Linked DNA regions of Homo sapiens: all the other regions are linked to region 1. The links come from fine-mapping of genetic effects on gene expression. A gene starts in region 1. Each other region holds a variant in brackets. All regions are shown on one strand. Distances are from middle to middle.

Evidence for each region. PIP is the estimated chance that this variant, and not a neighbour inherited with it, causes the effect.
Region 2: its variant is fine-mapped to the expression of CCDC18-AS1 in whole blood (TOPMed, PIP above 0.99).
Region 3: its variant is fine-mapped to the expression of CCDC18-AS1 in sun-exposed skin (GTEx, PIP 0.92).
Region 4: its variant is fine-mapped to the expression of CCDC18-AS1 in whole blood (TOPMed, PIP above 0.99).
Region 5: its variant is fine-mapped to the expression of CCDC18-AS1 in whole blood (TOPMed, PIP above 0.99).
Region 6: its variant is fine-mapped to the expression of CCDC18-AS1 in aorta (GTEx, PIP above 0.99). The same link has a PIP of 0.9 or more in testis.

Annotation. Positions count from the first base shown.
Region 1 is chr1:93,343,477-93,348,715 of GRCh38, reverse strand. CCDC18-AS1 (CCDC18 antisense RNA 1) reads left to right here and starts at 2,905. Exons shown (of 9, transcript NR_034089.1): 1 at 2,905-2,992. It overlaps DR1 (down-regulator of transcription 1), which reads right to left and starts at 2,809. Exons shown (of 3, transcript NM_001938.3): 1 at 1,851-2,809. The coding sequence starts at 2,070. RefSeq lists enhancers at 1,970-2,179, 2,240-2,309, 2,679-3,214.
Region 2 is chr1:93,322,090-93,327,328 of GRCh38, reverse strand. It overlaps CCDC18-AS1 (CCDC18 antisense RNA 1), which reads left to right. Exons shown (of 9, transcript NR_034089.1): 6 at 667-727; 7 at 1,434-1,560; 8 at 2,600-2,694. Among named protein-coding and RNA genes, the nearest start is that of CCDC18-AS1, 21 kb to the left of the region's middle. The variant C/T (reference allele first, on the strand shown) is at 2,643.
Region 3 is chr1:93,189,752-93,194,990 of GRCh38, reverse strand. CCDC18 (coiled-coil domain containing 18) reads right to left here. Exons shown (of 29, transcript NM_001378204.1): 5 at 2,885-2,991; 6 at 1,247-1,375. It also overlaps the pseudogene RPL36AP11. Among named protein-coding and RNA genes, the nearest start is that of CCDC18, 12 kb to the right of the region's middle. The variant C/T (reference allele first, on the strand shown) is at 2,715.
Region 4 is chr1:93,071,006-93,076,244 of GRCh38, reverse strand. No RefSeq gene overlaps it. Among named protein-coding and RNA genes, the nearest start is that of MTF2, 5.7 kb to the left of the region's middle. The variant G/T (reference allele first, on the strand shown) is at 3,083.
Region 5 is chr1:93,256,422-93,261,660 of GRCh38, reverse strand. CCDC18 (coiled-coil domain containing 18) reads right to left here. Exons shown (of 29, transcript NM_001378204.1): 25 at 5,123-5,239; 26 at 2,776-2,913. Among named protein-coding and RNA genes, the nearest start is that of CCDC18, 78 kb to the right of the region's middle. The variant A/G (reference allele first, on the strand shown) is at 2,219.
Region 6 is chr1:93,390,538-93,395,776 of GRCh38, reverse strand. No RefSeq gene overlaps it. Among named protein-coding and RNA genes, the nearest start is that of DR1, 47 kb to the right of the region's middle. The variant G/T (reference allele first, on the strand shown) is at 2,453.

The DNA.
Region 1 (5,239 bases):
TTAAAAACAAATCATCTTCATTACACAATGGAAATGCTTTTTCACTATAGCTTTCTGACTCACACATTAAACTGAATTTAGCATATTCCAAAGTTGAATTATTTAGCATACTGCTTGCTACAGCTGCACTTCTATTCCATCATGTCAATCAGAAATCTAAATATATCCTAGAAAAGAATCAACTCTCCCCAAGAAGACAGACTGTAATGTGTTATTAGGTTTTTGGAACGATCCCCACTTCTGTAGTGTAAACAAATGTTTAGGCAGACCCTGCTGAAATCTTTTGCAATTTTCATTAGAAAGGCAATGTTGATAAAGGTTCTTTTTCCTTTTTAAGAGTTGTAAAAAGAAATTATAGCTATCTGTGCTGGATAATCTTGTGAAAGACTTATGACAGCAATCACACATACAATGTAAAAATAAATACACAAGGGAAAAAATAGACAACTTGGCTTTCATTTTACTTGCTAGAGTATTCAGCACACCAAACAAGTAGAAAAAAAAAAAACTAGTACTAGTTTTAAGAATCAAATATGCTTTTTCCTAGGGATTTTTCTGCTTGTGTACTGAAATGGCAGGATATATTTTAAAACTACTTTCAAGACGTCATAAAGGATTAAAAATGAATCATTTAATCCTTTTGTCAATACTGAGAGTAAAATATTGGATATGGTCAATATAAGCAGATGTGTTCTCTACTTCAGTACAACAGGAAAGTCACATTTTAAAAAGTTAAATTATAAAAATTAAGTGATAGACAACCACCTGCCTATCAAAATGATTAAAATTAATCATTTTTCCCTGATTTCACAAGCAATCAATAACTTTAATTAGATTATTACAAAAGGCAAGTTCTCACCTCAAATTGAGTACAACTCTTTCACAAGAGTACATGTAAAAATATCGCAAAAGGTACGTTCCCGAAACATTATGAATAGTAAATATGTTTCTCCTCTCTGAAACCACCAGAATACAGTCCCCCAAATCCCTATTACGGGACCAAATCCTTTCCAGGATAAAAGAAACTGTTGAAGTTTTCAGAAGTGCTGTTCCATAAAAGCCTAAGTGTATACATTCAAATAGGAATGACAGCAGGAAAGGACGGGGAAATTTTCCGTTAAAAAAAAAACTTGCATAAACTTTCAATCAAAGATTTCAAAACTTATCTCCACAGAATAGAACAAAGCAAACGACATAAAAGCAAACGAAAAGAAAAAAACGAAAATTTAAAGTTCACCCTATTCTTACAGAATGGAACAGGAGTTATTTGGTAACTCATTCATGAACGTACCATCAAACCATTTTTAGAGCAGAAAACATACACCTTTTATTTAACAACGATAAACTTGACAACGTTGAACACATTGTATGTTAAGAATTTTTTAACTCATGTGTTCAGAAAATAAATCTTTTCCTCTACATTGGTGAAAGGTCAGGTGGGGAAGGGGGTGCTCTGTCTCCACCCACGTTGAAGTTCCTCCGTCTGAATTTTAACTTTCCAAAGGAGAATTTCTGCGTTCCTTAATTATTATCTAAGTTCAACTTCAGGCAAGTAATTCTTGTTGCTTCGGCTTACCTGGCTGTAAAGTGAGATCACTCTTATTCTTTACGTTTTGGGGACGCTGACCTAAATGTTTGCACTCCTTACATGTATTCGCTGGATGAAAAGTACTGCAAAAATGCTACAAAGGGATTGTTTTTAAAGCACCGGCTGCCTACATGCCAGTCTGGCTTTTTCATTAAGTTACTTACCAGGGAAGAGGAATGGAGGCTTTGACACGAAAGGGTCACGCGATTAGCAGACTGCTACCCTAGAACCTCATTCAAACCAGCTCTCACACACGACTTACCTTGTATGACATGCTCTGGTGAGATGGTCTTCTTTTCCGATTTGTTACAAATCTCATTGGCTTCAGAAGATATAAGGTGAATGAATTCAGTGCAGCAGTTCACCACCAGCTCTCGAGCATCGTTGGCCACCCGGACATTAGGAAGAGTCTCTTTGATCATTTTATTGATAGCAGCTCTGGGGATAGTGAGATCATCATCGTTGCCAGACGAGGAAGCCATAGTACCTTCCTGTTTCTCGCGCCCCGGCTTTTAAAAACTCCCCAGCTCTGGTCCACTACTCCACCGAGATTTCTCAAAAAGTCGCCCTCGGAGAGTGATCCCGGGGGGTGCTTTGCGAAGAGGGTGCAGAAAATGAACGGAGGAGCAGCTGGCTTGAGGGCTGGGAACACTCGCGTGTGTGAGAGATTTAGGATGAGTTTGGGAAGAAAGTGGGGGCCCGAGGATTCTAGAGAGAGCACAGCCCAGGCTGAGGAGGGGAAAGCGCGGTGGTCCGGAAATTTGAGCGGCTGGGGAACCACCTTCGTGTCTCCTCAGAGGGGCGGGCGCTGTCGCCTAACTGGTCCCCAACGGCGTCGGAGCAGAGGCAAGATCCAGGGGCACTGGCCTCGCCGCGGTACCGGGCGGGTACCCAGCGGGCTCGGCTCTATAGAGCCCGAGGCCCCGCTGCCGCTGCCGCCGCCGCCAGCAGCCGTTGCCGCCGCCTCGGCCAAACCATCCTTCAGACACCCGCGCCGCCGCCTCACAACATGTCCGCCGCTGCCGCTGCCGCTGCCGCTGCTGGAACGGCGACGGCCGCCTGGGAACTAATATGGACAGAGCCAGGCACAGTGGGAGTCGCAGTGGCTGCCGCCGTGGCCGCGTAGCCCGAACGCAGATCGTGGAAGCCGAAGACGCGGCAACGGTGGTCCCTCCAGATGCCAGGGAAGGTTTGCAGGAAGCCGCTCCCGACACCCTTTGCGCCACCGGAAGCCTCGTTCCCTCAGATTTCCCCCTCCCTCCCGGACCGACTTCCGGGTGTGGCTGCCGCCCTTCCCCCACCCACGCCGGCGGGAGCCGCCCGTTCGCGCTGCCAGCAGCTTCCGCCTGCTACGGTCCTGGCAAGCACCTCGGGATCCCATTCCTTCACAGGGACCCTAGCCAGGCAAGCGCGCGCCTCACTGTACCGGAGAGCTCCAAGCACGCGCTTGGTCTGGGGCCCGGACGCTACATCTGGGAAGGGGTGGGTGGCTGGGTAGATAGGCGAGGAAGGATCGTCTCTACCCTCTCTCAAGTAGCTGAGGCCTCCGAAACCTTCCCTAGCTGGATTTGGGGACAGAGGAGCGCTGGTATTGATAAAATAACTCTCTTTGCTATTCCTTTAGGAGCCCAAATGAGGATTGAAAGTGAGAAGAATGGGACCTGGGCTTGGGGGTGGGAGGTGGGGAAAGCAGAACCCCGTGTGCCTGTTTCTGCGTCGTCTGGAGAAAAAGCTTTTCAAGATGTCTGATAGACCTTATTCGGTTCAAAGCTCTCTAAAGTCCTTCACCTTTTTTTTTTTAAACTTCATGAAAAATGAAACATTTCAGAGAAGTTACTTGCCTAGAGGCAACTAAGTCGCCTAATGGCTAAGTAGGAAAGCAGAAGTCAGTTCCAACATAGTGGAAATGGAGTGGAAATGCATGGCATACAATGAGCTATATTAGAAGGTTCCCATTTAGACAGTTTTCATGTTGTATTCCATGTTGGCTTCTACAGGGGAAAAAAGTGTTAGAGCATCTTAAGCAACTGTTTTTACTTCTTTCCATAGTGACTAGTAATATCAACAGGTGTCAAGGTCTAAACAGAAATTGCATTTAAAAAAAAAAAAAGTGTGTCAGCCAGGCGTTGTGGCTCATCATACCTGTAAACCCAACACTTTGGGAGGCTGAGGCAGGGGGATCACATGAGCCCAGGAGTTCAAGACCCGCCTGGGCAACATAGTGAGACCCGTCCCTACAAAAAAAAAAAATATATATATATATATATATAATATATATTTATATATATAAATATATATTCCAACATCCCACTGTTTATAGTATAGCCTCTTCTATATGACAATATGAAACACGGGTTTTTTTTTCACCAGGCTTGGTGGCAGGCACCCGTAGTCCCGGCTACTCTGGAGGGCGAGGTGGGAGGATCGATTGAGCCAGGGGGTCAAGGCTGCAGTGAGTTGCGGTTGTGCCACTGCACTTCCAGCCTGGGTGACAGAACAAGATTCTTTGTCTCAAAAAAGATAAAAAAAAAAAAAAAGTAAAAAAACTGAGTCTGTCATACTGTCATGTGGAAGAAGAGGCTATACTATAAATAGTGGGATGTTGGAATTTCTAAAAACTAAACAAGACACTGTTGAAATCCATTTTGTCACTTTGGTTCATCAGATTCATTACTCTTGATACATATGATGGCAACTGGCTTGTTGACAGTGTTTTCTTAAAACGTTCTGTCTGAGCCCTATATGCTGCTCTCAAGAAGACATTACAGTTTATTATGCTATTTTTTCATTTAGCATTTTCTGCAGGACAACTTACTGGTTCTTTAATTTCTGAAGTGTAGACACTTGTTTTTCAGTGCTACTAAATTTAGTCAAAACAAAATTTCTTTGATTAAAAACAGTATTTTAATTAAATTTTCTTCAGGCTGGGCATGGTGGCTCATGCTTGTAATACCAGCACTTTTGAGAGGCCAAGGGGGGCGGATCACTTAAGCTCAGGAGTTCGAGACCAGCCTGGCCAACATGGTGAAACCTCACCTCTTCTAAAAATACAAAAATTAGCTGGGTGTGGTGGTGGGCACCTGTAATCCCAGTTACTTGGGAGGCTGAGACAGGAGAATCGCTTGAACTCTGGAGGCAAAACTTGTAGTGAGCCAAGATCGTACCACTACACTCCAGCCTGGGAGACAGAGCACGACTCTATCTCAAAAAAAAAAAAATACTTTATGAAGTGGTGGGTTTGTTTTTTTTTGTCAGTTTACTGTTGATTTAAAGATTTATTATGGTGCCTAAATTTATCTTGACCTTAACAAGTTTATCCGTCTGAAAAAGCTGGCTGGCAAAAAATGTCCCAAGTTGTCACAGTGTCACTGACCCTTATCTTGTCTCTCCTGAAAAAACTATAACTTTGCTTTTTCATGTAACATTTATGTTTATAGACTTATGCTAAATAGACGAGTAGAGCACACATTATTTCAGTAATAGTTTATTGCTACAGGCTTCTGTGGTAGCATAAACAGAATTGAATGTGTAGTAAGAGTTGTAGGTTCCAGTCCCAGCTTTTTTTTTTACTTAGACAAGTCACTCTCCAAGCCTCATTTTCTTCAGTTCAGATATAGAAATATTATGTAACACACAGGATTCAAAATCAAA
Region 2 (5,239 bases), 21 kb after region 1:
ATAAGGTAAAATTTAGGTTTCAGTTTAAATGTCCCTTCCTCCAGGAAGCCTTTTATTATCTTCTTGGACTAACTTTGAAGCTCCTGCTCTGAACTTTGATAGAGTTTCCAGATTGTATGGGACATATTTATAGTAATTAATAGATTATACATTATTTATCTGAAATTCAAACTTAACTGAGCATCCTATATTTTATCTAACAATCCTATCTATATTTCATCTTTTCTTTTTTAAGAACCTACCAAATTTTATTGTGATTGCTTATTTAAGAGAGTAAGCTGTGTAAGGTCAGGGACTATGTCTATCTGGCTTACGTTTGTATTTCTTTTTTTTTTTTCTTTTGAGACAGAGTCTCCCTCTGTCACCCAAGCTGGAGTGCAGTGGCGCCATCTCGGCTCACTGCAACCTCCACCTCCCGGGTTCAAGTGATTCTCCTGCCTCAGCCTCCTGAGTAGCTGGGACTACAGGCGTGTGCCACCACGCCTGGCTAATTTTTTTTGTATTTTTATTAGAGACTGGGTTTCATCATGTTAGCCAGGATGGTCTCCATCTCCTGACCTCGTGATCCACCCACGCCCAGCCTGTAAGATTTTTAAAAATATATTTATACATCATGTAATTTCAAGTACTCAAACTTTGTTTATGCTCTTCTCTTTCCCTAAATAGAATTTCCTTTCATCTCTGGTAAAAGTCAGCTCTCTAACTACTGCATCTCACAGCTGAACAGGTAAACATGTTCACTGGACCTGCTTTAAATACATATCCCTTAATGCTGCCCATAGCCAGACTATGTTTCCTTAGTCCATTCACTCTTCCACTACCTCTTGCCTTTTCTTTTCTCAAGCCTTCAATACCTCCTCCCTCATCCTCATTCTCAGCAGATGATCTTGTTTCCTATTTCACTGTAAAAGGAGAAGCCATGGGCTGGGCGCGGTGGCTCATTCCTGAAATCCCAGCACTTTGGGAGGCTGAGGCGGGTGGATCACCTGAGGCCGGGAGTTCAAGACCAGCCTGACCAACATGAAGAAACCCCATCGCTACTAAAAATACAAAATTAGCCGGGTGTGGTGGCACATGCCTGTAATCCCAGCTACTCGGGAGGCTGAGGCAGGAGAATCTCTTGAACCCAGGAGGCAGAGGTTGCGGTGAGCCGAGATCGCACCATTACACTCCAGCCTGGGCAACAAGAGGGAAACTCCATCTCAAAAAGGAAAAAAAAAAAAAAAAAAAGAAGCGATAAGAAGGAAATTGGCACAAAAAGGATAGCCCATCATGTTCTTTTTGGGCCTAATTCTCTTCACCCATTTCCCCTGTTCCCCAACTTTTACTAGACCCCAGGCCATTTTGGTACTAATCTGTTGGGCCAAAGGAAAAAAGTAATGGAGAACTAATGAAAATAATAATGTGTTTGTTGTATTTGTAATGTATTTCAGATAACTGATACCGTGCTTCCAGAAGATTTTTCTAACAGTGTTTGCAAGCTATAAAATAGTGCTTTCACTTAGAAAAGGCTAGACGTGGTGGTTCATGCCTGTAATCCCAGCACTTTGAGAGGCCGAGGTGAGTGAATCACTTGAGATCAGGAGTCTGAGACCAGCCTGGCCAACATGGCAAAACCCTGCCTCTACTAAAAATATAAAAATTAGCCAGGCATGCTGGCACATGCCTGTAATCCCAGCTACTTGGGAGGCTGAGGCAGGAGAATTGCTTGAACCTAGGAGGCGGAGGTTGCAGTGAGCCGAGATCTTGCCACTGCACTCCAGCCTGGGCAACTCCATCTCAAAAAAAAAAGAAAGAAAGAAAGAATTACCATTCTCATTCACCTTAATCCATAATAGCTTCAGAGCCCTGACTAAGAGGGCTCTGAGGTCAACCCAAATCCTCTCCTAGGACTACCAAATAGTCTCCTTTCTAAGATAAGATATTATATTAATGCTCATTTAGGCAGTGGCTTTCAGACTTTTGTTGTTTATTTCCCACAGTAAGAAATATATTTTGCATCTATAGCAAGACAGTTCAAACACATACAGTCACATTTATGACTGAAACGAAAGTTCATGAGACCATAGTTATCTTTATGATACGCAATGATGAGTCAAAGCTTATAATTTAGAAAATACTACATTAAAGAATTGTTAGAGGGAGCATAGGCTGGGCGCGGTGGCTCATGCCTCTAATAGACAAAATCTTTACGATTCCACAAATAGCTAGATGAACATTAGTTTGGAAACTACTCAACTATAACTCTCCACCCTCCACATACACACAAAAAGGAGTGCCCACATGCATGATTAAGCTGCTTGGCTATGAATAAATGACTCATATGACTGTTTGTCTAAGTGGTAAAAAGCAAAGCTGATGTAGGAACAAGTAAGGTAAAATCAATTAGGGAAAGGGAACAGCTCCTCCCTATTGTTCTTTTTTGTTCTCCACCAGCATAAACACTGCTATCCAAGTAGCCTCTGCATTACAGAGGGCTGAAAATTAAGCCCTGAATTGGGGAAAGGGACTAGATGGATTCGATGGTTTCTAAGTTACTTTTAAATCCTAAAACTTTATTCTCTTAATAAACATTTACTGATTGCTTAATACGTACCAGGCACCATGCTGGGAGATAAGGATCCAACATAAGACAAACAGTG[C/T]TGATGCTTTTGGAAAGCTCATATTCAAGCTGGGGAGACAAACAACATACAAGTAAGTAAATACAATGAAATTAATGTTGTGAAGGAAGTAACAAAGTCCAATGATAGGGAATAATAGGGGTAACCTACTACTATTCTTATCTATTATTATTATTAATTACTACCATTACGATTATGGTAGGAGTTTGACTCTATGCTGTGTCAAATGGGCAGCCATCAAAAGGATTTAAACAAGGAAGTGACATGACTTAGTTTTAAAAGAGCACTATATTGTGTGGAGAATGTGTTGGGAGGTGGAAAGAATACAAGTAGGAAAATTATTTTAGGAGTCTAGGCAAGACATGATAGGGGCTTGGATTATGGTGGTGACAAACTAAAATCCTGTTTTGTTTGCAATTAATAGACAATGAAAAAGTATTTTTGAATACTGATTTGAAAATCTTACTTATTTTGCCTCCAAAGCATACATTTTTTTTTTCTGTCTTTGCTAAATCATTTAAATCCAAGGGTTCCAAACTTTTTTTTTTTCTGCACACAGTATGCTAGTGGTGGTTGCTTTTAATATTCCAGAGCTCTGTAGTCAAGATCTTGAGTGTAGGAGTTGGTTGGGGTGGAAGGACTGTAATAAGTTGAGACTAGTGGAAAGAAGAAGCTGGTGCCAAGTTGCTGTGCAGAACAGGGCATAGGTGCATACTATAGTTCCTTGGGAATTCTATGAAGCTTGGGACAGTGTTGAAGATTCTGTATGGACAAGGCCCACCTTAGTCAAATAGGGGAAAAGAAAGATATATAAACTACAAGTTCACTTTGGAAAGGCAGAGATATCAGAATAAGAGAGTATTATTTGCATGAGGGTCTCAAAGCTTCTTGGAAGAAATGATACAAGAATTTGGAGTGATGATTATTACCCTAGAATACCATGATTATATTTCCTAAACCAAATAAGAAGAGACTTTTTCCAGCCATTTTGAGGGAAAGTGAATGGGGCTGCCTGGGAGGGCAGGAAATTCATCTAAGGTAGCAGAAAACTAAGATTTGTGGCTAGTGTTAGGACAGCAGCTGTCTGCATGTGATGAATTATTTGTTATGATACAGTTCAACGTTTCTCTGGCCTAGTCTCTGAGAAAACTTAAGTCTTTAATAAAGAACTGAAGAAAAGCTTAAAGAAAAAGACTGCCTCTTGGAGGATTAAATTGAGTTAGCCTAAGGGCCAGCTTTCAGCTCAGAGAGCTGTTACAAGCACCAGAAGGAAGGAGGTAGGAATCCCTCTCCCTACCCCACCCCTATCAACTTTGAGTAGAGCCCCAGCAGGAGCAGGGGGAGAACTAGTGCAGAGTCCTGGCTGGAGCCTTGGCAGAAGGGTGAGAAAGCTCCCAGGGCTGGGAGGCCACTCGGGACCCATGAAAATGGGAGAAACCTCACACGTTGGTTGTCCTTATAAAGAAAGGACAGGGTGGGAACTTGTTATCCATGTACCCAAAATCCCCAAGTGTGGCCTCAGAAAATAAAGGTTACATTGGGTGGGTTGGTGTAACAATTGCTGTATCCCAAAACAAGCTGTAGAATCTTTGGAGATTCACAAGAATTAATTAAACCGATATTAGTCTAGAAATGGTTTACATCCAGATTCTGCTTGGATCCGAGAAAACAGTTTCCCTAAACTTCCAGCCCCCAGTTTGCGAGAGAACAGTCACAGACACACATTCGGACTGATACTGTGTTCTTTCCTCCTACACATGTAGTTGAACAAATGCGGAAAACTCTAAAAATAAGTTCTCTAATCAAGATTCCAGATCGGGAGCAGGCTAAAAGAGGTCTGAGCAATGTTTTCATTTCTTAATGCTCTTGGTGGGTTCTTGGTGAGAGGCTTATTCTTAAAAAGCCCATTTGTAGGCTAGGAGCAAAGACGCTACAGGAATTTACCTGGTTGCTGACCAGTTACCAATGCATGTCCATGTCCATTCTGGTTCTTAAGCCACACTTGTAAACAGCATATAGACTTTTGTAAAAAGGCAAGTCAAAAGCTTTCATGAAGATATTGACATGCTATATCATGTATAAACATATTTGGCTCTTTGAAATGTCTCAGGAATGAATCATACATGTCGCTTTCCACTTTTGGAATAGACTAAAACTGGTTCAGCATGTCCAGCAGGTTAGTCTGGCTTCCAAAAGTTGTTTGGCTATGTATTTGGCTAATGCGAAAGTAATTGCGGTTTTTGCCATTGCTTTCAATGCCATTACTTTTGCACCAACCTAATATATTTGTGCATTTCTTTAAGGAAAATAATTAACCATGCTCTTACCTGCCAGAAGTAGTTCTTAGCTTAATTGCTATTTTCATCACCTTCATAAATTCACATCTAGTTCACAGCAACATTCTAGAGGAATGGTATATGTCAGCCAATAAAAACCACCTCATTAGAAAGTGTTAAAAAAGTCATTTTAAGAAACACCATTCAAAATTTGAGTACGAAAATTAATTTTGCAGCACAGATATACGTTGAGTAGAACTTACTGTTCAAATATAGAAAATGACCAATACATATAAGAAAAATATACTTATTTAATTCCTAAAAAACACATAGATTTTGCTG
Region 3 (5,239 bases), 150 kb after region 1:
GCTGAGAAAGAAGAACTGCTTGAACCCAGGGGGCGGAGGATGCAGTGAGCCAAGATCACACCACTGCACTCCAGCCTGCGAGACAGAGTAAGACTCCATCTCAAACAACAACAACAACAACAAAGTCAATACTCTATCCTAAAAGTCATCTCTTATCTAAGTTGCATAGAGGAAACTAGTAGCTCTTCCTCTTTATTTTTTCTTGGCAGCTATATTGTGAATGTGGTCTTCATGTATTATTATCTCACTATTTTAACTAACCACGTGCAAAGCTTATCTGAGTAAGTGAAGTGTGAATTCTAGAGTATTTAACCACAAAGTTTATAAAATAGTTAAATTGTTAGTATTTTTTAAGAGGTACATTTCTTTTTTTCATTTACTCTTCATTTCTATCCATATCAAGATAATATCATCTTTATTTAACAGATGAAAAAAACCTGAGATTTCAAAAGGTTATATCATTTGGCCAAGGTAACAAAGCCAATGAGAGGTAAAATCTAAAAATTTTCTAACTCCAAAACCTACGCATTTTCTACTAAGCAATATTGCAAATTGCAAAATTGCAAAATTGCAAAATTGCTTAGTACAGATTATGACTTTATACTGTATAACAACTGCTATAATCCTATTTTATTATAAAATCTTATTAGTTTAAACTCAAAAAATTTAAATCTTTATCAGTTTAAAAGTGAACTGGCATTCAGAGTTAATGGTTCCTTGGACAGAGCTACTTAAAAGACTTGATCTCAAGATATAATTTATACAAAATAGATATTTTTGTACTATTTATATATTTCTAAAGGAAGATCCAAGCACACATTCACAGGCATTGAGTTTCTTTCTCTATGAGGCAAAATTTTCTTTTAAAGAGTTCATTCAACATTTTATTTAGTTTTATTAGAGGTAATATTAATTTACAGGCTTTTTCCCTGTTAGTATTTTAAACTCAGTGTACTGGTTTCAAATAGGCCATAGAACTTAATTTCAGAAATAAGTATCATTAAACTGATAATCGTTATCAGTTTTGTAGAAATTAAGCCCAATCCAGGATGCTAATAACATAAATTCCACATATAAACATTTTAATGGAAAATTTAAAAAAATTAATAGATAAAAAAGAACATTAAGTTAATTTATTGCCAAATCTCTGAAATTTTTTCACTTCAAAAATTAACTAGAATTTTAAATAGGTAATATTTCCTTTTATTCCCTTTCAAAAACATGTATTTGCTTTAAAAACACATACCTTTTTCCTTGTTTGGTTTGTTCAAGTAAGTCCACCTTTAATTTTATACATTCCTCTTTGGACTCCTGCAAACTCTGTTCCTTTTCAATTACCATTTTCTGGCTCTGTTCCAGCTTATTTTCTGCCTCTCTATAAAATAAAGGATACTTTGTTTAAGACTACTAAAGAGATTATCCCAGGTATGCAAGAATAATTTAATATTAGGAATTATATTTGTTTAAATCAATGAGTTAAGAGAAACAATATACAAAAAGAGATAGAGAAAAAGGCATATTCATCACTTGTTAATTAAGAGTTTTTTAAAGAATAAAAGAATACTTCCACCAGATGATAAATATATCTGAAGTAATAACTCACATCGTATTTTATAGTCAGATACCAGAAGCATTCCTGTATAGTTCAGAAACTAAATAAAGATGACTGTTATCACCCCCACATCCAACAACTTTTCTGACAGTTCTACCCACTGCAAAAAGCAAATATGAAAAGGTAATAAGTAGTATAAATGCTGAAAAGGAAAGACAAAATTTTTTTTCTTTCTTTCTTTTTCCTACTCTTTGACTCAGAAACAAAATTTTTTTTATTTGCTGATAATACCATTAGCTACCAATTACAAAATAATTATATTATACAAAAGTCGGTAACCTTCCCATACACTAGCAATGAACAAAGTAGGAACAATTCACAATTGCCAAAAATATAAAATACCTACAAATTTAAAATAATATATGTATTACAAAGAAAATTACAAAACTCTGATGGACATAAAAGACAACTTCAGTGTGCAGCAGCATCATTTGCAGAACTTGTGAAACCCCTCCCAACTTGGTTCAGTATGCCAGAGATAAGACCTGAGAATTTGCATTTCTAACAAGTTCCCAGGTGATGCTACTACTGCTGGTCCTTTAACTATACTTTCGGAATCACTCAGAGTAATATGTTATTTAATATGCATATATTTCCCATTTTATTCAAAGCAGAAGAGAATAAATTATAAAGTGCCTGATGGCAAGGCATGGCAGCTCATGCCTGCAATCCCAACACTTTGGGAGGCCGAGGCAGGACGACTGCTTGAGGCCAGGAGTTTGAGACCAGCCTGACCAACATAGTGAGACCCTGTCTCTACAAAATAAAAAATAAAAAGCTTAGCTGGGCACAGTGGGTGCGTGCCTGTAGTCCCACCTCCTTGGGAGGCTGAGGCAGAATGATCACTTGAACCCAGGAGGCTGAGGCTGCAGTGAGCCATACTGTACCACTGCACTCCAGCCTAGGTGACGCAGTGAGACCCTTTCTGTAAAAATAATAAAAGTGTCTGACTCCTTTACATTTTATTTCTTGAACTCCCTTTGAAACACTGAGTATATACTTCTATGTAGGTGAAGAAATGAACTAATTCATGTTTGATAAAAGCATGTAAATAGGCATCTCACCTTAGTCTTTTTAGCCCCTATATACTACATGCAACCTA[C/T]AGCCAAGAGGAGTTATGATTGACTAAAAATAGATTCAACAAGTTCTAAGACAGCTGAACACCATTAGGTTACTGTAAATTTATTGGGTGTGGGGAACAAGATTTAACAAGATATAATAAAATGTATAAGTAGAAAATAAAACTTTGAGAGCTATAAAAAGTATATTTACCTCAAAACTTTATCTTGAGCTGAAACCTCTGCTTCCAAATTTATAATCTGTTCTTCTAAGATTGGGACACTGGCTGCCTGCTGTTGAGCAGACTCAAGCATAGAAACCTAAAACATAAAAACAACTTTTATAGTACTTTCAGAAAATAAATTAACCTACTTGGTCCTTAGTTTTTTTCCTGTCAGATGAGGGTGTTCAATAGGGCTCCCAAATCATTGGTCAGATATAAAGCTTCCCATCTATTCCTTTGATCAACATTTACATGGGCATATCATCATTATAAGCCAGCCTTGGCATGTAAGCTCCTGGCATTACCTTCAACTTATAACTGAAGAGTTATTTAGGGGAGAAAATAGAATCTCTATTGATAAGCATCTAGCAAGATTTATTTTACATAAATTAGAAAATTAAACATAAAATATCAAACTATAAACAATTATAAAAGAAAATATTTATTGAATTTTTATGATTTAAAAACCTAATTATAGAATACATGCTTACTAGGAAGAATCTAAATACAGAAAAGCATAATAACCCTACAATCTGTATAATAAAGAGAGTACAACTACTATAGCAGGGTGGGAACCCACAATCTAAATGGTATAGAAGAGAGTATCAATAAGATAACTATCACTGAAAAAGAAGTTTAGAACATGAAGGCACAAGGTACTGTAGAGGGCAGAAGTGAGGACCCAATGAAAAACCAGGGATACAGTTCAAAGTATCTGCAAGTAACAGTCATCCTCTTTTTCCCACTCCCAGAACACCAATAGCAAGGTGTTGGCATACTAGGAAAGAGGCAGAAAGTTTATTATCAGAAGAAACTGAACAGAAGAAGCTTGAGACTGTGAGACACTAAGAGTAATGAGCAGGAATGAAGTACAGCTGTAACAAGGGAATTAATATAAAACGGTTAGCCCCACCTTACTACTCAATTTCATTTTGGGTTATCCCACAGGTGAGAAACTAAAGGATTCTTTGCTGGAGAAACTCAATTGCTCCAAAAAAAAAAAAAAAATCTCCTTGCTGATAGCACTCCCGCAAACATGGTGAACATTCCTAAAACCTGCAGGACTTTCTGTAAGAAGTGTGGCAAGCACCAACCCTAGAAAGTGACACAGTACAAGAAGGGCAAGGATTCTCTGTATGCCCAGGGAAAGTGTCGATATGACAGGAAGCAGAGTGGTTATGGTGGGCAGACTAAGTAGATTTTCCAGAAAAAGGCTGAAACTACAAAGAAGATTGTGCTAAGGCTTGAGTGCACTGAGCCCAACTGCAGATCTAAGAGAATGCTGAGTATTAAAAGATGCAAGCTTTCTCAACTGGGAGGAGGTAAGAGCAGAAAGAGCCAAGTGACCCAGTTCTAAGTGTTATCTTTTGTTTTATTATGAAGACAATAAAATCTTGAGTTTATGTTAAAAAAAAAAAAAGGGAAAGAAAAACATCTCATACTGATACTGTTTGGGGGCTGGCAGGTGTTTCCCTACAAAAGAACCACCTCCCTAACCATCACCCAGAAATAAAGTCCACTGGACAACAAACCACCAATCTGCATTTAAATGCCTTTCTCTTAAATATGAATAGCTAAAATACTAACACCTGAAAAAATCTTCTTTTTTTTGAGATGGAGTCTCACTCTGTCACCAGGCTGGAGTGCAGTGGCGCGATCTCGGCTCACTGCAACCTCCGCCTCTGGGTTCAAGCAATTCTCCTGCCTCAGCCTCCCGAGTAGTTGGGACTACAGGCACACATCACCACGCCCAGCTAATTTTTGTATTTTTAGTAGAGACGGGGTTTCACCATGTTGGCCAGGATGGTCTCGATCTCTTAACCTCGTGATCTGCCCACCTCAGATTCCCAAAGTTCTGGAATTACAGGCGTGAGCCGCCGTGCCCGGCCCAAAAGCTTCTAACATAAAAGTCAGAGGCCTAAACAAAAGAAAAAGGAAAGTAAAGCAAACATGAAAAAAAAATCATTAAATCTTCAGAGTGCTAAGAGAGAATACTACATTAGTATGTTATGAAATACAAAACAATCGGAACAAAAAAAAACTTCAGAAACCGAAAAAAGTATGACAGCCAAAATAAAAGATTTAATAGAAGTGCAAAAAATAATGTTGAGAATACCTCCTAAATAAAAATCACAGGGCCAGGCGCGGTAGCTCAATCCTGTCATCCCAGCACTTTGGGAGGTGGGTGGATCGCTTGAGTCCAGGAGTTCAAAATCAGCCTGGGCAACATGGCAAAACTCCATCTCTACAAAAAGACAATACAAAAACTAGCCAGGCATGGTGGCACGTGCCTGTAGTCCCAGCTACTTGGGAGGTTAAGGTGGGAGGATCACTTGTGCCCAGGA
Region 4 (5,239 bases), 270 kb after region 1:
GGTTCATCTACGTTGTACCAGTCAGTAGTTATTTCTTTTTATTGCCAAATAGACTCCATTTGAATGAATGTACTACATTTTGTTTATCCATTCGCCAGTTGAAGGACATTTATGTTGTTTTCAATCTGGGGCTATTATAAATAAGACTGCTATGAACATTTGTGTACAAATCTTTGTATGGACATTCGTTTTTTATTTTTCTTGAGTAGATCCCTAGAAGTGGAATTACAGAGTTGTATGATAAGTTTATGTTTAACATTTTAAGATACTGCCAAACTGTTTTCCAAAGTGTAAGCAATATGTAAGCCTTCCAGTTTCCCAATATCCTCACTGATACTTGTCTATCTTTCTGATTTCACTCATAACAGTAGGGATTGCTAGGCATGGTGGCTCACACCTGTAATCCTAGCACTTTGGGAGGCCAAGGCTGGAGGATTGCTTGAGCCCAGAAGTTTGAGACCAGCCAGGGCAATACAGTGAAACCTTGTCTCTAAAAAAATAATAATTTTTTTTTTTTTTAGATGGAGTCTCTCTCTGTCACCCAGGCTGGAGTGCAGTGGCACAATCTTGGCTTACTGCAACCTCTGCCTCCTGAGTTCAAGCGATTCTCCTGCCTCAGCCTCCTGAATAGCTGGGATTACAGGCACGTGCCACCACGCCCGGCTAATTTTTGTATTTTTAGTAGAGACTGGGTTTCACCATGTTGGTCAGGCTGGTCTCAAATTCCTGACCTTGTGATCTGCCTGCCTCGGCCTCCCAAAGTGCTGGGATTACAGGCATGAGCCACTGCACCTGGCCAAAAAAAAAAAAAAAATTATTATAATAATTTAAAACAGTGGGAGTGAAGTGGTTCATTGTGGTTTCCCTAATGGCTAGTGCTATTGAGCATCTTTGGTTTGTTAGCCATTCTTATATCTTCTTTAGTGAAGTGCCTACTCAAATATTTTATGTATTTTTTAACTGGACAATCTTCTTATATCAACTTGTAAGAGTTCTTTATATATTCTAGATTTAGGTTCTTTAACAGAAGCATGATTTGCAAATATTGTCTTCCTGTCTATGACTTTATGACTTGTCTTTTCATTTTTCATAATGATGTCTTTTCTTTTTCCCCCAGAAACAAGGTCTCACTCTGTTGCCCAGCCTGGAGTGTAGTGGCACTGATCATAGCCCACCATAACCTCAAACTCCTAGGCTCAAGCAATCCTCCCATATTAGCTTCTCAAGTAGCTGAGACTACAGGTGCACACCACCACTCCCAGCTAATTTTGTTTTAATTCTTTTAGAGATGGGATCTCTATATGTAGCCCAGGCTGGCCTGGAACTCTTGGCCTCAAGCCATCCTCCCACCTCAGCCTCTCAAGTAACTGGGATTACAGGTGCAAGCCACCCTTGCCAGGGCTTAATGTATTTTGAAGGGAAAAAAATTTATTTTAAGTTCAATGAAATCCTATTTATCTTTTTTTAAATACCATATGCTTTTGGTGTTATAACTAAGAATTATTTTACCAAAGTCTATTTTCTATTATGTTTTCTTCAGAAGTTTATAGGTTTAGCTCTTATATGTAAGTCTATGATCCATTTCGAGTTATTTTTTGTGCACAGTGTGAGAGGTATAGGTCTGTATTAATCTTCTTGTGGCTGGGTGTGGTGGCTTCTGCCTGTAATCCCAACACTTTGAGAGGCTGAGGTGGGAGGATTGCTTGAGCCCAGGAGTTTGAGACCACCCTGGGCAACATGGCAAAACCCTGTCGCTACAAAAAATACAAAAAAAAAAAATTAACTGGGCATGGTGGTGTGCACTTGTAGTCCCAGGTACTTTGGAGGCTGAGGTGGGAGGATCAATTAAGCCTGGGAGGTTGAGGCTGCAGTGAGCTGTGATCTTGCCACTGAGCAGTAGCCTGGGCAACAAAGCAAGACCCTGTCTCAAAAAAAATTTTTTTTTTGCATGTGAATGTTCAAATGGTGAAACAAACTTTTGTTGTATTAGCCACTGCAGTTTGGAGTTGTCTGCTACCCAGCATATTTTAGCCTACTCTGACTGATACAATCTAGATTTGTTAATACAGGCATACCTGTATTAATCTGCAGGATCGGTAGCAGACCACCACAAAAAGCAAATAGTCACATGAATTTTTTTGGTTTCTCAGTACATATAAAAGTCATGTTTACACTATACTGTAGTCTATTAAGTGTTCAATAGCATTATTTCTTTAAACAAATCTTAATTTAAAAATACTTTATTGCTAAAAAAAAATGTTAAAAATTATCTGAGCCTTCAGCAAGTCATAGTCTTTTTGCTGATGGAGGGTCTTGCTTCCATGTTGACGGCTGCTGACTGATCAGGGTGGTGATTGCTAAAGGTTTGTGGGGTGGCTGTGGCAATTTCTTAAAACAAGACAACAATGAAGTGTGCTACATCGATTGACTGTTCCTTTCACAAAAGATTACTTGGTAGCATATGATGCTGTTTGATAGCATTTTACTCACAGTAGAACTTTCAAAAATTGGCTGGGTCAGGTGGCTCACACCTGTAATCCCAGCACTTTGGAAGGTTGAGGCAAAAGGGTTACTTAAGTCCAGGAGTTCCAGACCAGCCTAGGTACCATGGCGAGACCCCTTCACTACAAAAAATAAAAATAATAAAAATAAATTAGCTAGGCATGGTGTTACATGTCAGTAGTCCCAGATACTTGGGAGACTGAGGAGGGAAGATGGCTTGAGCCTGGGAGGTCAAGGCTGCAGTGAGTTGTGTTCATGCCACTGCACTCCAGCCTGGAGTGAGACTTTTTTTTTTTTTTTTTTTGAGGCGGAGTTTCGCTCTTGTTTCCCAGGCTGGAGTGCAATGGTGTGATCTTGGCTCATTGCAACCCCCGCCTCCTGGGTTCAAGCAATTATACTGCTTCAGCCTCCCTAGTACCTGGGATTACAGGTGCCTACCACCACACCCAGCTAATTTTTTGTATTTTTAGTAGAGACAGCATTTCATTATGTTGGCCAGGCTGGTCTCGAACTCCTGACCTCAGGCGATCCACCCACCTCAGCCTCCCAGAGTGATGGGATTACAGGCATGAGCCACCAT[G/T]CCCGGCTGACCCTGTCTCAAAAAAAAAAAAAAAAAAAAATTGGAGTCAATCCTCTCAAACCCTGCTGCTTTATCATCTAAGTTTATATAATATTCCAAATCCTTTCTCATAATTTATTTATTTATTTTTTTGAGATGGACTCTCACTCTGTCACCTAGACTGGAGTGCAATGGCCCAATCTCCACTCACTGCAACCTCTGCCTCCCAGGTTCAAGCGATTCTCCTGCCTCAGCCTCCTGAGTAGCTGGGATTACAGGCACGTGCCACCATGCCTGGCTAATTTTTGTATTTTTAGTAGAGACGGGGTTTCACCATGTTAGCCAGGCTGGTCTTCAACTCCTGACCTCAAGTGATCCACCCACCTCAGCCTCCCATAGTGCTGGGATTACAGGTGTGAGGCACCATGCCCAGCCTGTCATTTCAACAATGTTCACAGCATCTTCACTGGAGTAGGTTTCATCTCAAGAAACCACTTTCCTTAGAACAGTGATTGCCAAGGGCTGGGGGAGGGGATGTGTTAGCCCATTCTCACGTTGCCATAAAGATCTACCTGAGACTGTGTAATTTATAAAGAAAAGAGGTTTAATTGACTCACAGTTCCACAGGCTATATGTGAAGCATGGCTAGGGAGGCCTCAGGAATTATGGTGAAAGGTGAAAGGGAGGTAAGCACATCCTCACAAGGCCAGCAGGGGATAGAGAGAGAGAGCCAGAGGGAAGGTGCTACATACTTTTAAACAATCAGATCTTGTGAGAACTCACTATCATGAGAACAGCAAGGGGGAAATCTGCCCCCATGATCCAATCATCTCCCACCAGGCCCCTCCCCCAACACTGGGGATGACAATTCAACATGAAATTTGAGTGGGGACCCAGAGCCAAATCATATCGGGAAGGATAAGAAGTGAGTAACAGCTTAATGGGTATGGGGTTTCCCTTTGGTGTAATGAAAATGTTTTGGAACTAGATAGAGGAGATGATTGCACAAGTGTGAATGTACTAAATGCCATTGAACTATTCACCTTAAAATGGTTACTTTTATGTTACCTGGATTTTACTTCAATTTTTAAAATACTTGAAAAGAAAAAAGAAACCACTTTCTTTGCTCATTCATGAGAAGCAACTCCTCATCTGTTCAAGTTTGATCATAAGATTGTAGCAATTAAGGCATATCTTCAGCCTCCACTTCTAATTCTAGTTCTCTTGCTCTTTCTACCACATCTGCAGTGACTTCCTCCACTGAAGGACTCCCTCCAAGTCATCCATGAAATTTAGGATCAACTTCTTCCAAACTCCTGTTAATGTTGATATTTTGACCTCCTCCCATGAATCGTGAATATTCTTTTTTATTTGTTATTTTTTATTTATTTATTTTATTTTTTTGAGAAGAAGTCTTGCTCTGTCGCCCAGGCTGAAGTGCAGTGGCGCAATCTCGGCTCACTGCAAGCTCTGCCTCCCGGGTTCACGCCATTCTCCTGCCTCAGCCTCCCAAGTAGCTGGGACTACAGGCGCCCACTGCCACGCCTGGCTAATTTTTGTATTTTTAGTAGAGACGGGGTTTCACTGTGTTAGCCAGGATGGTCTCGATCTCTTGACCTCATGATCCGCCCACCTTGGCCTCCCAAAGTGCTGGAATTACAGGTGTGAACCACTGCGCCCAGCTGAATCGTGAATATTCTTAATGGCATCTAGAATGGTGAATCCTTTCCAGGTGGTTTTCAATTTACTTTGCCCAGATACATCAGAGGAAACACTATCTAAGGTAGCCATCACCTTACAAAATGTATTTCTTAAATAATAAGACTTGAAAGTCAAAATTAATCCTTGATTCACAGCTGCTGAATGGATGTTGTGTTAGCAGGCATGAAAACAACATTCATCTCCTTGTACAACATTCATCTTCATCAGAGCTCCTGGGCAACTAGGTGCATTGTCAATGAACAGTAATATTTTGAAAGAAATCTTTTTCTCTGAGCAGTAGGTCTCAACAGTGGGCTTAAAATATTCAGTAAACCATGCTATAATCAGATGCGCGGTTGTCTGCTTTGTTGTTCCATTGGTAGAGCACAGGTAGGGTAGATTTAATATAATTCTTAAGGACCCTTTGATGTTCAGATGGCAAATGAGCATTGGCTTCAACTTAAGGTCACCAGCTGC
Region 5 (5,239 bases), 87 kb after region 1:
GTGGGTGATTGATGTGGCTTGGGGGACCATGTCTTGCTTAGATTGGTGGGGCTTGTGGGGACCATGTCTTGCTTAAATACATTTAGAATCATATCTCTTTGAAAGCACTGTGCTTTCAAAGGTTAAAGGTATGTTGACACACTTCCGAGAATGCTTAGGACTGTCTAGGTTTTATGCCTGGTACCCTCATGTAATTACTATAGCATTCCTTTTCATTCTCAAAAGTATTCTCTTTTAGATAAAGAAAATGGTCAATGTATTTATGGATGAAATAAATTGGCTATGCATTGAAAATTATTAACGTTCAAAAATAAATATGAGGATGTATATACTATTTATACTATTCTATTTTTAAATATATTTAAATTTTTCACAATTAAAGGTTAAAACAATCTCATTCTCCTCCAATAAGTCAGGAGTTTTACATTTATTATTAAGTGATTTTCTGACAATTTGGAAACCTATATATTAAAAAATACTGTTGATCTCGAACTGGAAATACCATTTGACCCAGCCATCCCATTACTGGGTATATACCCAAAGGATTATAAATCATTCTACTATAAAGACACATGCACATGTATGTTTATTGCAGCACTATTCACAATAACAAAGACTTGGAACCAACCCAAATGTCCATCAATAATAGACTGGATAAAGAAAATGTGGCACATATACACCATGGAATACTATGCAGCCATAAAAAAGGATGAGTTCACGTCCTTTGCAGGGACATGGATGAAGCTGGAAACCATCATTCTCAGCAAATTATCACAAGAACAGAAAACCAAACACCGCATGTTCTCACTCATAAGTGGGAGTTAAACAATGAGAACACATAGACCTAGGGAGGGGAACATCACACATCGGGGCCTGTTGGGTGGTGGGGGATTAGAGGAGGGATAACATTAGGAGAAATACCTAATGTAGGTGACAGGTTGATGGGTACAGCAAACCACCATGGCATGTGTATACCTATGTAACAAAACTGCATGTTCTGCACACGTACCCCAGAACTTAATGTATTAAAAAAAAAAGAAAGTATAATAAAAAAAACTGTTAAAAATTATTGATCCTCTTTTCTAGCTCTCTATTACTTTAATACCATATCCTCTCATTTTTATATTCAAACAACATATATATTTTAAAAGTAAATTTTTATCAACTTCCAAACAGGTAAAAATATATACTTCAATATTATAGACAAAATATTAGTATCAAATATTAAATAGTAATATTAAATATTAAAATGCAGCAGCATGTACTTATTTTTTTTGAGACGGAGTTTCACTCTTGTCACGCAGACTTGACTGCAATGGCGCGATCTTGGCTTACTGCAACCTCTGCCTCCCAGGTTCAAGCAATTCTGCTGCCTTAGCCTCCTGAGTAGCTGGGATTATAGGCATGCGCCACCACACCCAGCTAATTTTTGTATTTTTAGTAGAGACGGGGTTTTGCCATGTTGGTCAGGCTGGTCTCGAACTCCTGACCTCAAGAGATCCACCTGCCTTGGCCTCCCAAAGCACTGGGATTACAGGTGTGAGCCACTGCGCCCGGCTGGCGTGTGCTTTTACTCCCAGCTACTTAGAGGCTGAGTGGGGAGGGTTATCTGAGCTCTGGAATTTGAGGCCAGTCTGAGCAACACAGACCCCATCACTTTTTTAAAAAGATAGCAATACTGAACTAATTTTACAATTTATTTTATGTACAATCTATTTATAATTTCAGGTGGCTTATAAAACTAAAAGAAACAATTGGATAATTATACTTAAAAACAGAACAGAGGCCATATAATGAAAGTGTAATGAGTAGTTAAGGGCAAACACTTGAAAGCGCCTAATTATTACTGATAGTTACTAAGCTGAGCTGTTAATAACAATTATATAATTATGCTGAGTCCAACAGCATTCATTCAGGTTTGTCGCTAAAGATCAAAGGTTGCAAATTCTTAGCCTTAGGATTAGATTCAGCTTGTAAATATGTTTTGTTTGGCAGGCACAATGCTTTCAAAGAGATATGATTCTAAATGTATTTAAGCAAGACATGGTCCCCACAAGCCCTACCAATCACTCACAAAAATGTCACCAAACTCCCTTGAATGGAGTTTAACATAAATATTTGCAACCCTTGCCGTATTAGAAAAAACGCTTTATTAGCACTAAACGTAAGTAATTTATTTAAATCATATACAGAGATTTTGGGTAATATCTTTAAATGT[A/G]GTTTTTAAAAAGATGAAAAATGCTATTCTAGTCAATAATACTGCCCATTTCTGTGAAGGCTCAAGACATGCTGACAGATAAAAAGGCTCTAGTATTATCTCTCTAGCTAAGTTATTATAAGAAGAAATGCTGAAAATTGCAAAGCATTATAGATTTACATCACATGAAACGGTTTATATCAGTTATTAAATATTTCCAGTTAATCTTTTACAAATGCTATTTTATATTATATATTAATTCATTTAATATTCACCACAGTTCTATGAGGTAGATACTATTATTATATCCATTTTAGACACAGGTTAAGTAACTTACCCAAGGTGATACAGGTGGCTCCGTGGTGAGCTAGGGTTTAGAACCAGGTTGCCTGGCTCAGGAATTCAAGCTCTTAACCCCACAGTATATTAAAGTGAAAGCTGTATGTTTAGGCTACCAGAAATGAAGACCACAATGTATTATTCAATAATGAACACTTAAGAGCTGGACTCATACTTTTGTCCAGATAGGTCAACCTACTTTAGTGGGCACTAACAAAACAAATTAAATTTTTCTTTACCTCCATATGATAAGCTTCTTTGAGAGATTCTACTTCTGCTGACAATTTCTTGATTTCTGCTTGCATTCTTGCTTCTAAATGAGCTTCACGTACTTTAGAAGCCCCCAGTTCTTCAGCTAAATGGTTTCCATGAGCATCCTTAAAAATGACATATTGAGTAAAAGCTATAAAACTTGTTTATTTGGTTATTATAGCTAAACTAATCCAGTGCATTATTGGAAGTAGTTTAATTTTTTATATTATATAAACACAGACACAAAGTTAACTTACTAAATAGTATGCTTTAAAATCTAGACATTTCAGAGACTATTAATGGGAGAGTATTAATATAATTGTTTGCTGTCATCATAAAATAGATGTTCACTAACCAATGCTTTCTATAAAATGAACTATTAATAATAACCTCAGGACACTGAACTCTGGCAGATAACAGTCTACTGCTAGGTATGCCTGTATATTTTTGCTCACTATATATATTGTCTGTTTATCAAGAGTCAGTTGTGTTTTTATTCAAACTTATTTATGCTAATTTAGCTAACTGTGCTTGTAATTTTAATTGTGTAATTTTATTATAGATTATGAACATGATGAAATAAGCAAATGCAAAGTTTTTATCCAAAAACTAAGTTATATGTTTTGAACCAGCTTAATAAGTAAGTCATGAACATTTTGCTATCCAATTAGAAACACTCAAAATTGTTATAAAATATGGTAGGAGGTCCCATAAAAATATAACATGGTTCACTTACAAATGTCTTTTAATTAATTATTATTAATTAATTTTTATTAATTTAATTTTAATTAATTTAATTATTTTAATTTTAATTAATGTCTTTTAATTAATTCTTCCTCCACTTTAAAGAAAGCAGAATTGGAAACTATAGATGATGGAATATAGTGTGGTGAAAGACCAGGTAGGAGTCTAGTTATGTGAGAAAGACTAGGTAGAATTCTAATCAAATGACTCATACAAAAAGAACCAAGGTTTGGCCCTACATCAAAGGAAAAACATATCAATATATATTTAGTTTTGGGTTAAAATAAGTATTTAAAACACTGTCAATTAAAAAATTCCTAACTTTAATTCACTTTTTAAAGTGAGCTTAGCTTATCAAATAAAAACCAATTGTACTATACTTTGACACTATTGATAAAGGCAGAAATGAGATAAAAGTAGATAGCTTTCCTTTTCCTAGAACCCCAAATGTATAATATATCTCTAATAAACATTCTCTATGTATGCTTTACTGGTCTAACCATCCAGAAATGTGAATAACAACATAGGTAGGCTTAACCAAAATTAAAGGTAAAAATATTTTAATTCAGTTCCTATGGAATTGAATTAAACCATGGAAACCACAATGGAAAGCTGAATTTTTTTTTTTTGCAACATCAATAAACACATTTTTCTTAAAGTCTAAATAATTAACCCAAGTATACCAATGTAAATATTTTTAAGCCAAGTAGTTAACTTCCTACCAAATACTGGAAAAATAAAATTTATATTAGTATTTTTGCTTTTTAAAAGCACTTTACCTCCAAGTTACTTTATCAACCAAGGGTTTTGAACTACAGGTTTCCTAAAAGTTACAAATTTAATAGTTACAAATTTGGATAGTTTTCATGTTTTTTTTTTTTTTTTTTTTTTTTTTTTGAGATGGAGTCTTGCTCTGTCGCCCAGGCTGGGGTGCAGTGGCACGACTTCAGCTCACTGCAACTTCTGCCTTCGGGATTCAAGCGATTCCCCAGCCTTAGCCTCCCGAGTAGCTGGGACTATAGGTGCCCACCATCATGCCTGGCTAATTTTGTTTTTTGTATTTTTAGTAGAGATGGTGTTTCACCATATTGGCCAGGCTGGTCTCAAACTCCTGACTTACTTATCCGCCTGCCTCGGCCTCCCAAAGTACTGGGATTACAGGTATGAGCCACCGTGCCAAGCCAATAGTTTTCATTTTTAAGAGTCACTACAAATGTAAAAATTTTTACTCAAAAAAGATTAGCTTTATTTTTTCTTCAAGTAAGAGCTCGAACTCACTTAAAAGTCTAAAAGTGCTTTATAACTCAATTTGAGAACTAGTTTAGCCAAAACTCAGTTCTGAAGGACTTCCTGGTTATATTACAAAGTTATCTATATATAACACAGTTCATTATTTTCTAAAATTGTGGTAAAATACACACAAAATTGACCATTTTAACCATTTTTAAGTGTATAATTCGGTGGGATTAAGTACATTCACACTGTTGTGCAATACAGTTCATTTTTGAAAGAACTATATTCTACAGTTCAAAAAAAATGCTAATATTTGTAAGATTTCAGATACATAAGATTATTTAAAATAGGGATTACTTTCTCTTTAGAGAGTTGCTTCATATCCTCCAGTTCACTAGAGAGCCTTTCTATTTCTCTCTGTGCTTGGACTTGCTGATGACGAGCCTCTGCCAATTCTGTATGAGAGTTCTGCAC
Region 6 (5,239 bases), 47 kb before region 1:
CTTTTAAATAAATGAGTGTTCATAAATTAAATAATCAGCCAAAATGCTTTTCAAGTTCATGTCAATTTAGTAATATCTGGCAAAGAAAAACTAGTTTTTAAATTGTCGGCAAGGCCAAGTGCAGTGGTTCACGCCTGTAATCCCAGCACTTTGGAAGGCCAAGGCAGCAGGACTGCTTGAGCTCAGGAGTTCGAGACAAGCCTGGGCAACACAGGGAGGCCTTGTCTTTACAAAAAGTAAGAAACAAAAATTAGCTGGGTATGGAAGCACATGCCTGTAGTCCCAGCTACTTGGGGAGCTGAGGTGGGAGGATTGCTTGAGTCTAGGAGGTGAGGTTTCAGTGAGCCATGATTGGGCAACAGAGCAAGACCTCATCTCTGCAAAAAAAAAAGTATAAATTAGCCAAGCACAGTGGAATGTGCCTGTAGTCCTAGCTATTCAGGAGGTTGTAAGGTGGAAAGATTGCTTGAGCTCAAGAGATCAAGGTTACAGTGAGCTATAATCATACCACTGTACTCCAGCCTGAGTGATAGAGTGAGACTCTTGTCTCTAAAAAAATTAAAATAAATAAAATTTGCTTTTCTCTTTTGAAAAAGATTTTTGCGTAGTATTAATGAGTAAAAAAAAAAATTGTTGCTCATTTTTCGTAAATTGCAAAAAAGTGGGCACACAGTAAGAGAAGGACAGATAGACTCTGTTTGCCTCCAGCTGTCTTTATTAGGCCTTTTGATAGTTTAGAAAACTGAGTCCCCTCTCTAACATAAAGAAAAGATTTTTGCTTTTTGAATTATTTTAATTATCAGTTTTGCTAAATGAATGACCTATGATCCTATTTCTGTTCCAGTGTTTTAAATCTTTGACATATTTGACAGGCTTTCTAAAATCAAATTTCAAATTCTAAATTAAGTCTTTTTGACTTCAAGCTAACTTTTGGACACTCCAGAAGGGTCCCTGGAAGTACAAGAGAGACATATTAGGCTTATTTGGTATGTTAAAATCATGCAGGAAGGATTGTGAAATAAGAAATAATGTTTAGCCTTTTGCGAGTCATATTTGTATAAATGTGTTAGTATGTGTTCCAAAATGGAATGAGATTCTTAAAAATCTGGTATGTCCTGGTATGTGTTATTAGTCACAATTATGGATATTGTGTAAAGTTGTAGGCCACAAAAAAAATGACCAAATTTCCTTGTCAATTGCATCTTTAATCATGGTTACTTTAAGTCTTATTGTCCGCAATTAAGCATCTGTGGCTTTATGCTTATGCTCTTGTTTTCTGAAAGTTCTTTTTTCTGTTCCCCAGGCGGGAGTGCAACAGCGTGATCTCGGCTCACTGCAACCTCCGCCTCCCAGGTGCAAGTGATTCTAGTGCCTCAGCCTCCTGAGTAGCTGGGACTATAGGTGTGTGCCACCACACCCAACTAATTTTCTGTATTTTTAGTACAGACGGGGGTTTCGCCATGTTGGCCGGGCTGGTCTCAAACTCCTGACCTCAGGTGATCCGCCTGCCTCAGCCTCTCTCTTTATAAGTTTTAAAGTTTTGTCTTTAAGGAAATTCATGGAAAAGACTACAACAAATAATCTTGAATACATGTTTCTGATGACTTTAAGACTGAATCATGTCTGTAGTCCCAGCACTTTGGGAGGCCAAGATGGGAGGATCGCTTGAGGCCCAGAGTTCAAGACCAGCCTGAGCAACATAGCGAGACTTCATCTCTATTTTAAAAATTTGTTTTTTCTTTTTTTTTTTTAACAGCAAGCTCATCCTTTAAAAAATTTTTTAAAGAAATCAAGATTGAATCATTAGATGGGGTAAAACAATTTTGGAACACTAATAGAACAAAAGTGGACTCATAAAATTGCTAATGTATAATCACACGGAACAATACTTAAGTACATGAGACTGAACTGATGAAAAACTGAAATTGTTTTTTAACCATAACTTTTTATTTGAAACATTGCTGATTCTTTTTTCCCCAGAGTAAACATTTTTCTTTTAAGCTATTTATAGCTTACACCAATTAAGTAAAGTATACTTTTGTGAGCCAAATTCAAATATTTACCTCTTTATTTGATCCCTCCAAAATTTAGAAACTATTTGCAAGTAGTGTTATTTTATGACAATATAATTATTTGCATAGATTCGTAAGAATTTGTTTTCTTTTGTAATAGTACACAATTTGAAATGCTGATTACTGAGGATTAGACTGGAATGTCGTATTTTTAGAAATGACTAGACTGTTTTGAGGAATTGAGGTTCACTTTAGAAAGCCAATAGACTTGGAAAAAGACTGACCTGGTACCTTGTCTACACAGTTCCCTTACAAGGTCCCTGACCTTGAAGTAAGTAAAGAATCTCACTTTTGGACAGACCCAGGAACCTCAATGTATTTTGAGGACCTTGAGAAGAAAGGTATTCACCGAAGTTTTCGTACAGGTATTATAGTGTTTG[G/T]CTTGGCTCCTAAGCTTTTTTACTTTTTTTAAATTTTTTTATTTTTATTATTATTATTTTTTTGGTGGAGATGGTGTTTCGCCATGTTGCCCAGGCTGATCTCTAGCTTCTGAGCTCCAGCAATCCACCCACCTCGGTCTCCCAAAGTGCTGGGATTACAGGCATGAACCATCACACTCAGCTCTGGCTCCTAAGCTTTTAGAAAGTCTAATCTGAGATTTTTTATGAAAATGTTCCAACAAACCAACTTAAAAGAGCCTGTGTGATAAATCACTATTCTTACTTACTTTATGCAAATAATCAGGCCAGGTATAAGACTAAAACATAATTTTACAAATAGATTGGTCTTTCTATGATTTATCTTTGTTAGAAGTAGGGAACTAAAGAGAGAAAAACTATGTTTCAGAAGAAAACTTTCATGTACCTGTTATAAATTCCTAACCCTGTCCATTGTTTTGGGGATTTTATTATTTTCCTTGCAGGAAATCCCGAATCCTGAATTCTTTCCTGGCTATAAGTCTCCAAACTAATGTTTCTAAATTTTTCTTCCATTTTTCTGACTTGGACTCACTAAAATTGAAACTCTCTTTATCCTGAAGTTCTATGAGCTGAAGCTCATGTATAAACAACCTTGCGACACACCAACTATAAACCAGAAAAGTCTGTCAGATTGCTACTGCCTGCTTGCTATAACTAAAGATGTTTCAAACCCAAATCTCAATGGACTGCCCTCACAAAAAATACATTTTTTTTTTTGCAGTTTAGATACTAACTTTAAAAGTAGACCTGTGACTTTGCTCTTTTTATTTTACAAAAAATGAATCTAAGTATTTTAGAAATTTTATATCCATCATAGAATTACAGATCAACTAGCTGTTTACCAAACCCACTTACTCTTCTTCATGGATGAAAAGCATCCCTTGAAATTAGGTGTGGCTGTGTAGAATGAATTCAGAGCAACAGAATGTGAGTGAAAGTAACTTATGCTACTCCTGATCAGGCCCATAAAAACTACCCATGCACGATCTGCATGCTGCTCTCTCTCTCTCTCTTTCCCCTTCTACCAGCTAGATGTTGATTGACTACATTAGCAAAGATAGTTTGCTCCAACCACTGCCTTCCAATCTCCCATTAACATCTGTCTCCCTGATAACCATTAAATTTTTACGTGAGTAAGAAATTTCTACTTTTCTTCTTTATTAGTCTTGCTAGCGGTCTATCAATTTTGTTGATCTTTTCTAAACACCAGCTCCTGGATTCATTGATTTTTTTAAGGGTTTTCTGTGTCTCTATCTCCTTCAGTTCTGTCGTGATCTTAGTTATTTCTTGCCTTCTGCTAGCTTTTGAATGTGTTTGCTCTTGCTTCTCTAGCTCTTTTAATTATGATGGTAGGGTGTCAATTTTAGATCTTTCCTGCTTTCTCTTAGGGCATTTAGTGCTATAAATTTCCCTCTACACACTGCTTTGAATGTGTCCCAGAGATTCTGGTATGTTGTGTCTTTGTTCTCGTTGGTTTCAAAGAACATCTTTATTTCTGCCTTCATTTCGTTATGTACCCAGTAGTCATTCAGGAGCAGGTTGTTCAGTTTCCATGTAGTCGAGTGGTTTTGAGTGAGTTTCTTAATCCTCAGTTCTAGTTTGATTGCACTGTGGTCTGAGAGACAGTTTGTTATAATTTCTGTTCTTTTACATTTGCTGAGGAGTGCTTTACTTCCAACTACGTGGTCAATTTTGGAATAAGTGTGATGTGGTGCTGAGAAGAATGTATATTCTGTTGATTTGGGGTGGAGAGTTCTGTAGAAGTCTATTAGGTCAGCTTGGTGCAGAGCTAAGTTCAATTCCTGGATATCCTTGTTAACTTTCTGTCTCGTTGATCTGTCTAATGTTGACAGTGGGGTGTTAAAGTCTCCCGGTACTATTGTGTGGGAGTCTAAGTCTCTTTGTAGGCCTCTAAGGACTTGCTGTATGAATCTGGGTGCTCCTGTATTGGGTGCATATATACTTAGGACAGTTAGTTCTTCTTGTTGAATTGATCCCTTTACCATTATGTAATGGCCTTTTTGTCTCTTTGGATCTTTGTTTTATCAGAGACTAGGATTGCAACCCCTGCTTTTTTTTGTTTTCCATTTGGTTGGTAGATCTTCCTCCATCCCTTTATTTTGAGCCTTTATTTTGAGCCTTTTTGTCTCTTTGGATCTTTGTTTTATCAGAGACTAGGATCGCAACCCCTGCTTTTTTTTGTTTTCCATTTGGCTGGTAGATCTTCCTCCATCCCTTTATTTTGAGCCTATGTGTGTCTCTGCATTTGAGATGGGTCTCTTGAATACAGCACAATGATGGGTCTTGACTCTTTATCCAATTTGCCAGTCTGTGTCTTTTAATTGGAGCATTTAGCCCATTTACATTTAAGGTTAATATTGTTATGTGTGAATCAAATAGACATAATAAAAAATGATGAAGGGGATATCAGCACTGATTCCACAGAGATACAAACTACCATCAGAGAATACTATAAAGACCTCTACACAAATAAACTAGAAAACCTAGAAGAAATGGATAAATTCCTGGACACATACATCCTCCCAAGACTAAACCAGGAAGAAGTTGAATCCCTGAATAGACCAAAAACAGGCTCTGATATTGATGCAATAATTAATAGCCTACCAACCAAAAAAAGTCCAGGACCAGAGAGATTCACAGCCGAATTCTACCAGAGGTACAAAGAGGAGCTGGTACCATTCCTTCTGAAACTATTCCAATCAATAGAAAAAGAGGGAATCCTCCCTA